Linked DNA regions of Homo sapiens: regions 1 and 3 are each reported to be linked to region 2. The links are microRNA targets in miRTarBase. Many come from high-throughput screens and were not tested one by one. Region 2 holds a microRNA gene; each other region holds the end of a gene's coding sequence.

Evidence for each region. Region 2 holds the annotated microRNA hsa-miR-6083 (CUUAUAUCAGAGGCUGUGGG, at 996-1,015, shown strand). A microRNA usually pairs through its seed, bases 2 to 8, with sites in the 3' UTR of a target mRNA and lowers its output. Matches are read on the target gene's strand: a 7mer-m8 pairs with bases 2 to 8, a 7mer-A1 pairs with bases 2 to 7 and ends in A, and an 8mer does both.
Region 1: miRTarBase lists YWHAZ as a target of hsa-miR-6083. Seed matches in the 3' UTR shown: 7mer-A1 at 536-542.
Region 3: the mRNA of TRIM23 is a reported target of hsa-miR-6083. Seed matches in the 3' UTR shown: 7mer-A1 at 593-599 and 7mer-A1 at 2,429-2,435.

What each region holds. Positions count from the first base shown.
Region 1 is chr8:100,917,872-100,921,093 of GRCh38, forward strand. It overlaps YWHAZ (tyrosine 3-monooxygenase/tryptophan 5-monooxygenase activation protein zeta), which reads right to left. Exons shown (of 6, transcript NM_145690.3): 6 at 1-2,881. The coding sequence ends at 2,822. Among named protein-coding and RNA genes, the nearest start is that of YWHAZ, 33 kb to the right of the region's middle.
Region 2 is chr3:124,373,413-124,376,677 of GRCh38, forward strand. MIR6083 (microRNA 6083) reads left to right here and starts at 920; the gene lies at 920-1,025. The region is part of intron 10 of KALRN (kalirin RhoGEF kinase); the gene reads left to right.
Region 3 is chr5:65,588,978-65,592,242 of GRCh38, reverse strand. It overlaps TRIM23 (tripartite motif containing 23), which reads left to right. Exons shown (of 11, transcript NM_001656.4): 11 at 295-2,553. The coding sequence ends at 474. Among named protein-coding and RNA genes, the nearest start is that of PPWD1, 27 kb to the right of the region's middle.

The DNA of each region.
Region 1 (3,222 bases), not on the chromosome of region 2:
CCAAAACAAAGAATCTCAGGTTGGAAATTTTCCTTAATCTATTGGGAACTACTATGTAGAAAACATTAGTTAATACTAGTGAAGTGTTTTCATTATTCCAGGATCAACCTAGTTCAGATGACTGATGCACATTAAATAGGCAAATGTGCCAAGTTTCAGGTTTTATTTACTTGAATAATATCACATCTCTACTGGGCGCGGTGGCTTATGCCTGTAATCCCAGCACTTTGGGAGGTTGAGATGGGCGGATTGCCTGAGGTCGGGAATTCAAGACCAGCCTGGACAACATGGTGAAACCCTGTCTCTACTAAAAACACAAAAATTAGCCAGGTGTGGTGGCGGGCACCTGTAATCCCAGCTACTTGGGAGGCTGAGGCAGGAGAATCGCTTGAACCCAGCAGGCGGAGGTTGCACTCAGCCGAGATCGCACCACTGCACTCAAGCCTGGGTGACAGAGCAAGACTCTTGTCTCCAAAAAAAAAAAAAACAACAAAAAAATTCCCACCTCTTCAGTCTAGCTATAAAATATAATTACTTTATATATATATATATATATATATATATATATATATAATTATTTTACCTCCTTGGCTTGGGGGTCAGGAGAAATCAGTAAGTGAGGTAAAAGAAAGAGCTGCGAGGGAAAAGGATTGTTGCCCTAGATGCAGAAGGTATCTTTTCTCCTGGAAATAAAGACCCCAAGGTCTCCATTGCACTTTTATTTGAATGTAATATTTGGGACAATTATTCAAAAGGGCCAATATTTCCCAATTTAATCTGAGGTCATAATAAAACAAGCAACAAAACAGTGTTTGGGATTTCAGTTTCTCACCCTTATCATCAAGACTCACTGCCTCCCATCATCAATATTTATTGAGCATTTACAGTGTACTAGGCACAATAGAACATACAGAAAACATTGTCCCTGCTCTTGAGGAGCTTACATTCTAAAAGAAAAAATACACCTTTTTTAAAATGGCATTTTTGTTTGGTGTTTTCTGCAAAGTACTGAGGAAATATTTTGTAAAGTGAGCTTTGGGTATAACTTAGCCCCATCATTATTTAGAGAATAGAGGAGGAAGAAAGAGGAAGGATTTTAAAGGCAGACAATGACAGACCATTCAGGATAGGTAGGGTTTTAAAGGGAGATAAACACAGTCTCATCAACTAAGGAGAGATTTGCTGCAGTAAATAGGATGAGGGAAATAGTCTGTGGGATGCAAGCAAAGGAAGCAGGGTGCCTTAGACACTGAGTGGAGCCAGAAAGATCATGCGGCCTTTTTCCAAGTACATGGCCACCAAGTAAGAATGGTTGGTGACAAGACAGAAGGCTAAAACAGGAAGGTAATCTTGTGCACCTGACAAATAGAAAGAATAAAGGATCAAAATTGAAGGCAGGCTATAAGAGTATCAAGAAATTCTTAAAAACCAAAAAGTGATTTGGAAGCACAAAACTTACAGTTAATGCTACCCAATGTCATGATGGGCCAAGAACATTGTGGCTTCCTAAGTTAGAAAATGCCATATGCCAAAATTTTAAATGGAACACACTACATTTTTTTCTAATCAATCCCCCCCTCTCCCAGAAAAAATAGGAACTCATTTTTTTCAGGGTGGGGAGGAAGAGAGGGGATCATGGGACATGGAAACAGTAGTTATATTAGTAGTATTTTTGTTATGATAAATTTTGTGTTTAAACTTGGTAAGAGCCCATTAGCTGCCAAGAGGGAATAAGGAATAAATTTCAAAAAATGTACAATTTCCTTTAGAGAAGTTTCAGAACCAAGACTAATTTACATGAAAAGCTGTAGAGAAAGTAGTTGAAAAGTCCATTCATAAAACTTTTATTCCACTTACATGAATTTAATACACGTGTTCTTAACAATTATGCTTGGATTGTTCATGAAAATTTCATAAGACATTAAACAAAGCTAGCCATCATCTCAAGTTATTTCCCTGTTAACTATTTTTACAGCACATGCATGTTAGGCAAGTATCAAAAAAAAAAAAATCACAAAAGCAAAAATCCTAAAAAAAAGTTAAATACATGGGTTTTTGTTTTACTGCTGTGCTTGATATACATGAAGTAATGAATACCAAGCAATTCATTTTTCCTGCATCTTTACTTTTACATTTGTTCTTAGGTTGCCTAAAACATTTAAATACAAATAAAATGAGTGTAGCAAAAATAATGAAAGCTAACAGCAGGTAACTTTACAAATAATGGAATGTGAACCGTTTCTGCCCTTATCCAGAGTAAAATGGGTCACAACTTTGTCTAAAGGAACACTTCTGCAGCTGTAGTCAAAGGTGTACACATTGAGTATTCCACAGATATACATGGTTTAATATGTGGTATCCATGGGGTATGATTCTACCACAGCCTTGTAAGTGCTCCAAACCTTAAAGTACCCACAATTACTACACCTGTGACTGGAACCAATGATCCCTTTTATTCCCCGCCAGGACAAACCAGTATGTAGGCAGTTTTCTTTGCTTAGACATGGAAGCAGTTTTACACTGGCCCTTTTGAAGCCACAATGTACCAAAAGTACTATGCCAAACACTTATAACTTGTATAAAAATTCCACATCCCCATATTGGCCACCTCAAGATGAAAACAGATAACTCCCTAAATGTTAACTGGCTCTACTCCCCTAATATTAAACATAAAAACCACATGGGAAATATAGAAATTCAAATAGAAGTAACATAAACCTGTCATAAATCGTAAACAAAAAACTATTTGTGGGACAGCATGGATGACAAATGGTCTACTGTGTAAATTTTAGAATGAGGCAGACAAAAGTTGGAAGGCCGGTTAATTTTCCCCTCCTTCTCCTGCTTCAGCTTCGTCTCCTTGGGTATCCGATGTCCACAACTGGTAAAAGAAGGAAAGATTTTTCAGCAAGTTTCAGTGGGATGGGGGGGGGGGGGCGTTTTCATATAAGTGCCAAGATACCTGAATGTTTTAGTTGGAAAGCATTCTTAAAAAGATAGCAGCATCACTTAGCTTCAAGATACAAAAACATCTCAATATACAAATTTACTTTTTTTGTAACCACTATATAAGCAGGTTAAGTACACCACAGAGTTGCCTTCAAATAACCTTCAGATACAGGAAAGTTTTGGTTATCCACAGAAGGTGAAGAGAAATTACAAGAAATAATACTTTTTTTTTGAGATGGAGTCTCGCTCTGTCACCAGGCTGGAGTGCAGTGG
Region 2 (3,265 bases):
ACAGGACAGCCCGTGTTTGTTTCCCGTGGCTACTGTAACAAAGTACCACAATCCGCACAGATTAAAACAGCAGAAATTTATCGTCTCACAGTTCTGGAGGCTAGAAGTCTGAGATTGCAGTGTTAGCAGGGTTGTTCCTTCTGAGGGCTGTGAGGGAGAATCTGTTCCAGGCCTCTCTCTTAGCTTCCAGTGACTTGCTAGTGGCTTTGCTGTTTCCTGGCATGTGGCTGCACCACTCCAACCTCAGCTTTCATGTTGCTCTCCCTGTATGTCTGTATCTTCATTTGGACATCTTTCTATATGAATGAACACCAGTCATACCACACTATGGGCCTACCTTATTTCGGTATGATCTCATCTTAACTAATTATATCTGCAACAACGTTATTTCCAAATAAGGTCACATTCTAAGGTACTGGGGTTAGAGCTACAGCATATCTTTTTGCAGGGACAGAATTCAACCCACAAGAGCCCCACAAGCAAAGAATTATCCAGTGCAAAATGTGAATGGTGTTACTGTTGAGAAACTCTGTTCCACATAATCTGTGGACCAAGCCCAGGGAGGTTAACTAAGGTAAAACCCAGGGCAAGTAGCAGTATGGTCTGAATGTCTGTGTTTCCTCCAAATGTATATATTGAAACCTAATTCCCAATGTGGTTGTATTATGAGGCAGGAACTTTGGGAGGTGATCAGTGCCCTTTTAAAGAGGTTCTAGAAAGCTAGCTAGTTCCTTCTACCATATAAAGACACAGTGAGAAGATCATCTGTGAACCAGGAATTGAAGCCCTCACCAGATACTGAATCTGTGGGTACCTTGATCTTGGACTTCTCAGCCTCTAGAACTGTAAGAAATAAACTTCTGTTATGTATAAGCCACCCATTGTAAAGCATTTGTTATAGCAGCATGAATGGTCTAAGGTAAAAAGAGTCCAGAGTCTGGGAAGGTGGAAAGGGAGCAGGAGCATCGTCTTTAAGAGGGTCAGGTACCTTTGCTCTTATATCAGAGGCTGTGGGCTTCCTACAGATGTATATAGGCATAACCTCAGGCAACAGAGATATATGTGACCAAAACAGGGTGAAAGGACTTGAAAGAGCACTATGCTAACAGGGATAGAAGCAGAAGTGTGGCCAAACCCTCTGATTTGGTCACCTCACCATCTGACCCACCTTTCCACGTCAGGAACAGCCTTTTCCTCTTTTCCTCCGTTAGGAATGGAACAGGAGAGAAAAATAAATCCACAAGCCCCACAGTTTTCAGCAGTATTTTCAAGCCAACTGTCTTGTCTCTCCAAAGCCCAGTCTTCTCTCTCTGACACCCACTCCCTCCCACTGCCAGCCAAACATAGAATACAGAAAACAGGAAAAACAGCAACACTGCAAAGTTACATCTTTTGAGAGAGAACATTGCTGTGGGTACATTTCCCCCCATACCTCTTGAATTGCCAAACCTTGCAGCAGGCAGCCTTATTCTGTTCCATGGGGATGCTGTCTCACCAACTGCTTGTTTCTTTGGCTTCAGGAATTCCATGCAAGAATGAATTTCTGCCGAGATGGGGTCACTGGGCAGTCTATGTATCCACATCTGTATATTTAAGTCTATCTTCTTCACTTTTAAAATATTTTTGTCCACATTTTTATGTTGTGGCTACATGTTCCCCTTCATTGTTTTGCCATTTCCAATAGAGAGAGGGAAATGAGGGAAGGGAGAGGGTGACCAGAGGAGTGGAGATTATGTTATCAAATTCCAGGAGAGATGGGTTGCTTCCGAGCAGCAATATGAATACCCGCTGGCTATATCCGGGGCCTGCTCAGTGGGAAAAGGAGGAAGCCTTCCTCCAGTCTTCAGAGCTCCGTGTCTGCATAGCGCACGCCTCATTTTGGTCTCCTAATTGCTCAGCTATCTTTGCTGTCTATTGTTCCCTCTGGTTTGTCTCAGGAAGCAGCTCTGGGCCAACCTCTGGCCTCTAGTCCCCTTGCTCTCTGCACCATCTTCTTTGTGTCCCATTCTAAGTGCTAGTCCTGGCTCCCCTAGGCCCAGCTTACAGCCCTGACTCTGCCTTCCACAGCTCCCCATTCCTTGGTGGGCTAGGTGGGGAGAGGTCAGGGACAGAATCTTTCCCTGCTATATGTCTCAGGCCCCAGAGGGTGGCCATGTTTTCTGGAATCTGGACTGTATTTTTCTTACAGTCTGGACCTGGTGTTATCTGTCAAATTATACCTTGTAACTAGTATTGGCAACCTCTAGGATTGACTTTGCCTTTTAATCCACAAACAAGGTATTTTATTGTTGTTGTTATTGCATGGATAAAATGTTAACAGTTAATTATTTCTTTTGCTTTCCTGCCTCAGAGTGACCAGATATTTAGCTTCTAGTTTATAGTCAGGAGGGAATATTTTGAAGGTCCTTTAAAGCAATAATATGTAAATGAAGAGAGTTATTGAGAAAGAAAGAAAAGGGATCAGTGAAAGAGAGCACCCCAGCAAAGAACAACTACTATAATTTTCTCAGAATTTCTAGGCCCATGTACCTTCCTAAACACACACGGTTGGACTGTAGGAAAATAAAACTTTACTTTAAAAAAAATGTGGAGTTCTAAAAATATGCCTTTTATAGGAAAAGGTGCTAAAGCATTTTAGATATAAAGAAAAATAGTCTCCAGCAAGTAGAGATGTGTGAGAATGGACAGGGTGATTATTACGTATGTAAATGTGATAAAGTTGGTGTTTAAGTCCTCAGAGATAGTCTCAGTACCGAAACTACTTGTGTTGGGAGGTATTGGCACCTGCAATAGTTATTTTTAGTATCAGTCCCAATTAGTAACTGAAGATTTATATACATAGTCTTCAACTTTAAGGTGCATCTCTTTAGGGTACTCCTTAGACACTTCTTATTTGGACATAAAGTTGTTCTAATGGAGGGAACTTACTTGTTCCCTTATTCAGGGCACCTAAGAAGATATTGTTCTTTCAGCAGTTGTAATGTGGTGGGTCAAACCATCACTGGTACCCAGAAGTAATTTCCTCTGTTTCTTCTTACTTCTTTCCACCAAAGACCACTTTGCCATTCCCAGAATTCATCCCCTTCCCCACTACAAGAGCCAACAGATGGAGGAGAAATATATTCCTGGAGTTCTAGGATGAAAACTGAAAAGCATTTTTCTATATCACCCTCCTTAATCATAGACAATGTGCTATGTCAGTACTATATTTTAAACCTATTATGTGCTCAACTGAATTGCTTTATTTTATCCTGGGATCCTAACC
Region 3 (3,265 bases), not on the chromosome of region 2:
AAAGATAAAAAAATTACTTAGGCAGTATGTTTCCTTTTAGGTTGCAAGGACTTTATTGATTTCATTGTTAAGCTAGCCTTACAAAGTATATACATACACACACATATAAATTAGTTAAACCAAACTAATTTTTTCTATTCTTATTAATCTCAGAATAATTACTGAAAGATGAATCTAGGTTTTTTGTTTAGGCTTCTGTTAGAACACTGTCAACAAATTTCTCTATAAATGGTGATAATTAGAAAAATTATAATTTGGATGGACTGATAAAAAATATGTGTATATATCTTTCAGGATGTTGCTGGAGCACTGTCAGTAGAAGAAATCACTGAACTACTCAGTCTCCATAAATTATGCTGTGGCCGTAGCTGGTATATTCAGGGCTGTGATGCTCGAAGTGGTATGGGACTGTATGAAGGGTTGGACTGGCTCTCACGGCAACTTGTAGCTGCTGGAGTATTGGATGTTGCTTGATTTTAAAGGCAGCAGTTGTTTGAAGTTTTGTGGTTAAAAGTAACTTTGCACATAGTATGTTTTAAGAAATTATACATCTCAAAAGATGGTAATTTAGGATGCATATATATATATATATATATAAAGGAATCTTGGATTGGGAATTCAGTACTTTGCTTTAAAAAAATTTTGTGGCAGAATTAAATTTCTAATTGAGCAGATTAGATTGAATTAAATAGAAACTTATTGAATATACATTCTTTTAAAAAGTATATTTGTTATTTAAGTTTTTCAGATAATATGTGACCAATATACTGGGAAAGAGGTAGTCACAGAGAAAGGGTAAGTGAAGGTTTATTCTTTCAGTGAAAAAAGAATAGCCAATTGAGTGCCTAATGAGACCTCTGTGTGAAGCAAGTGAAGTATAGCTGCTTCTTTTAACCTGCCTTTTCACTGAATGTTGGCAGCATTTAGTAGTAGAAATGACAGTTGCTTAATGAAATAGAATCCAAACTACATATTTGGATAATAGGATTACTTTATGTTTATGTTCAGAGTTAACAGAACACCTTTAATGCTAAGAACTATAAGGTACAGAAAATTAATACTTTATATAGTGTTTTATTAACTTTCTCCTACAGCATTTTGTATAAAACACAATGAGGGAGTGAAATGTTACCCAATTAGGCTTGTCAGGTTAGTAATAAACTGAACAGTAATAAAACTGTGGAAGTAATTGGATCTGAATTTATGAAAGACCCATTTCCAGGACTGAACCTAGGTCAGAGCTCTAAATTGGTCCTTCTATTTTTCAACAAATTTAAAGTAATATTTCTTTCTAATATAATATTGCATCCTTTGTGGGAATGACTATAGGTAAAATGTAGTAAGTAACGCAGAACCAGGGTTGGCTTTATTTAAAAGCTAGTGACCTAAATAGAAAGCGAACTTCAAGAGAAGTTGTAAGTACAGTGGCAAATGCTTATTACTTACTTCAAACTGTTTCCCAAAATAAGTGCATTTATTTTGACAATAAAACTTAAGGCTGTTCATGAGAAGGCCTTGAAAAGTTACTCTAGAGGAAAAATGTCTAAAGAAAAAAAAAATTCAAAAAGTTTACATTAATTATTCAGTGTTGTGAGTAAATAAAAATGTGTGCTCTTTACTGTTTTTCATTTTTAAAGAATATTATTATGGAAGCACGATTTATTTAAATAGGTACATTGAGACTTTTTTTTTTTTAATGTTCTGATACATTAGGATGAAGTTAAATCTTAAATCTTATTAGTTGAATTGTTGTAAGGACAGTGATGTCTGGTAACAAGATGTGACTTTTTGGTAGCACTGTTGTGGTTCATTCTTTTCAAATCTATTTTTGTTTAAAAACAATACAAGTTTTAGAAAACAAAGCATTAAAAAAAAAGCCTATCAGTATTATGGGCAATATGTAAATAAATAAATGTAATATTTCATCCTTTATTTTTCAGGTAAAAGGTCATGCTGTTACAGGTGTAGTTTGTGTGCATAAATAATACTTCCGAATTAAATTATTTAATATTTGACTGATTTCAATAACTGTGAAAAATAAAAAAGGTGTTGTATTGCTTGTGAGAACTTGAACTGTTTACTAGTTAATTGAAGAAAAAGTGTAACACTAAGGTGAACTTGCTTCCCTTTTCACTAATTTTGCTAAACTTTGTAATGCACATTCTTAGCATATAACTGAACACAGTTGAAAAATTGTGCCTGATTATAATGTATGTATAATGGTAGGTGTTTGTGTGTGATTCATTTTTAAAGAAATATTTTTCTCAAGCTCCTATTACTATTTGTGGTTGTATTATTTCACTAATCATTAGTTAAGACTGTGCTAGTCTTCCCTGGGAAACTAAGAAGAGAGCTTTTTTATATACAGTATATTAGAATTTTCCTAGTAGCTGAATTTCTGTATTAGGTCTAAATATTACTGTATGTTATATAAAGCAGGTATGTCAAGTGTATAGCCGTAGTCTATAATTCAGGAATGCTTTATAACCATCAGAAGCCATTATTTGCACTACATATATGATAAGTATAGACAGCAATAAAATGTTAAGATCATTTTTAAGAAGTCCCATCATTATTCTTGAAAGTCTCTTTCTTGAACCATCTACCTAATATTATTGCTAGTTGTAACCAATTTAAGAAGTCATTATTTGTGCTGTGGTTAGGAGAGAAAATAAAACAAAATGGGTATGGGTTGGCATGCCTGTCAAATTTGAGATGTAGTTTATTTGATACAGCAAAATTTTAGAAATAACGTTTTGAATTTGCAACATAGGCCACATTTACTGATGAGAACAGATACTAAACTTGATCTTAACTACACCTGATCTTAGCCAAAAGGCCGAGAAGTAATGTGCAGGCCACATTTAAATAAGTAATATAACCATAGTGTTTTGAAGGCGGAGCTAAAGTTTTACATTGAACGAAGTGAAACTTTGTTACTGCCTTTTAAATTTTAAATGTAAACTTGTTTCATAAGAAAACATAGTATTTTAAATGACCATTTTAGAAAATGGCTTGCAAAACTTAGTGGTAGCTCATGAACTAATACTGCTAAGAGAAAGGCTTTTTATGTAACACTGGGATACTTCTCAATTGGCAAAGTGCTAACAAAGAAGAAGACAGCTGTATTCTTCCCTAAAAGAATAAAGGATGAAAAGGACTAATGAATAAGGATGAAATTATATCCTGATAACTTAAAACATGCTTTTAAAAAGACATGGGCAATGTATGTTTTTAGGTCTGCCGATTAAGTTTTTGATATTAA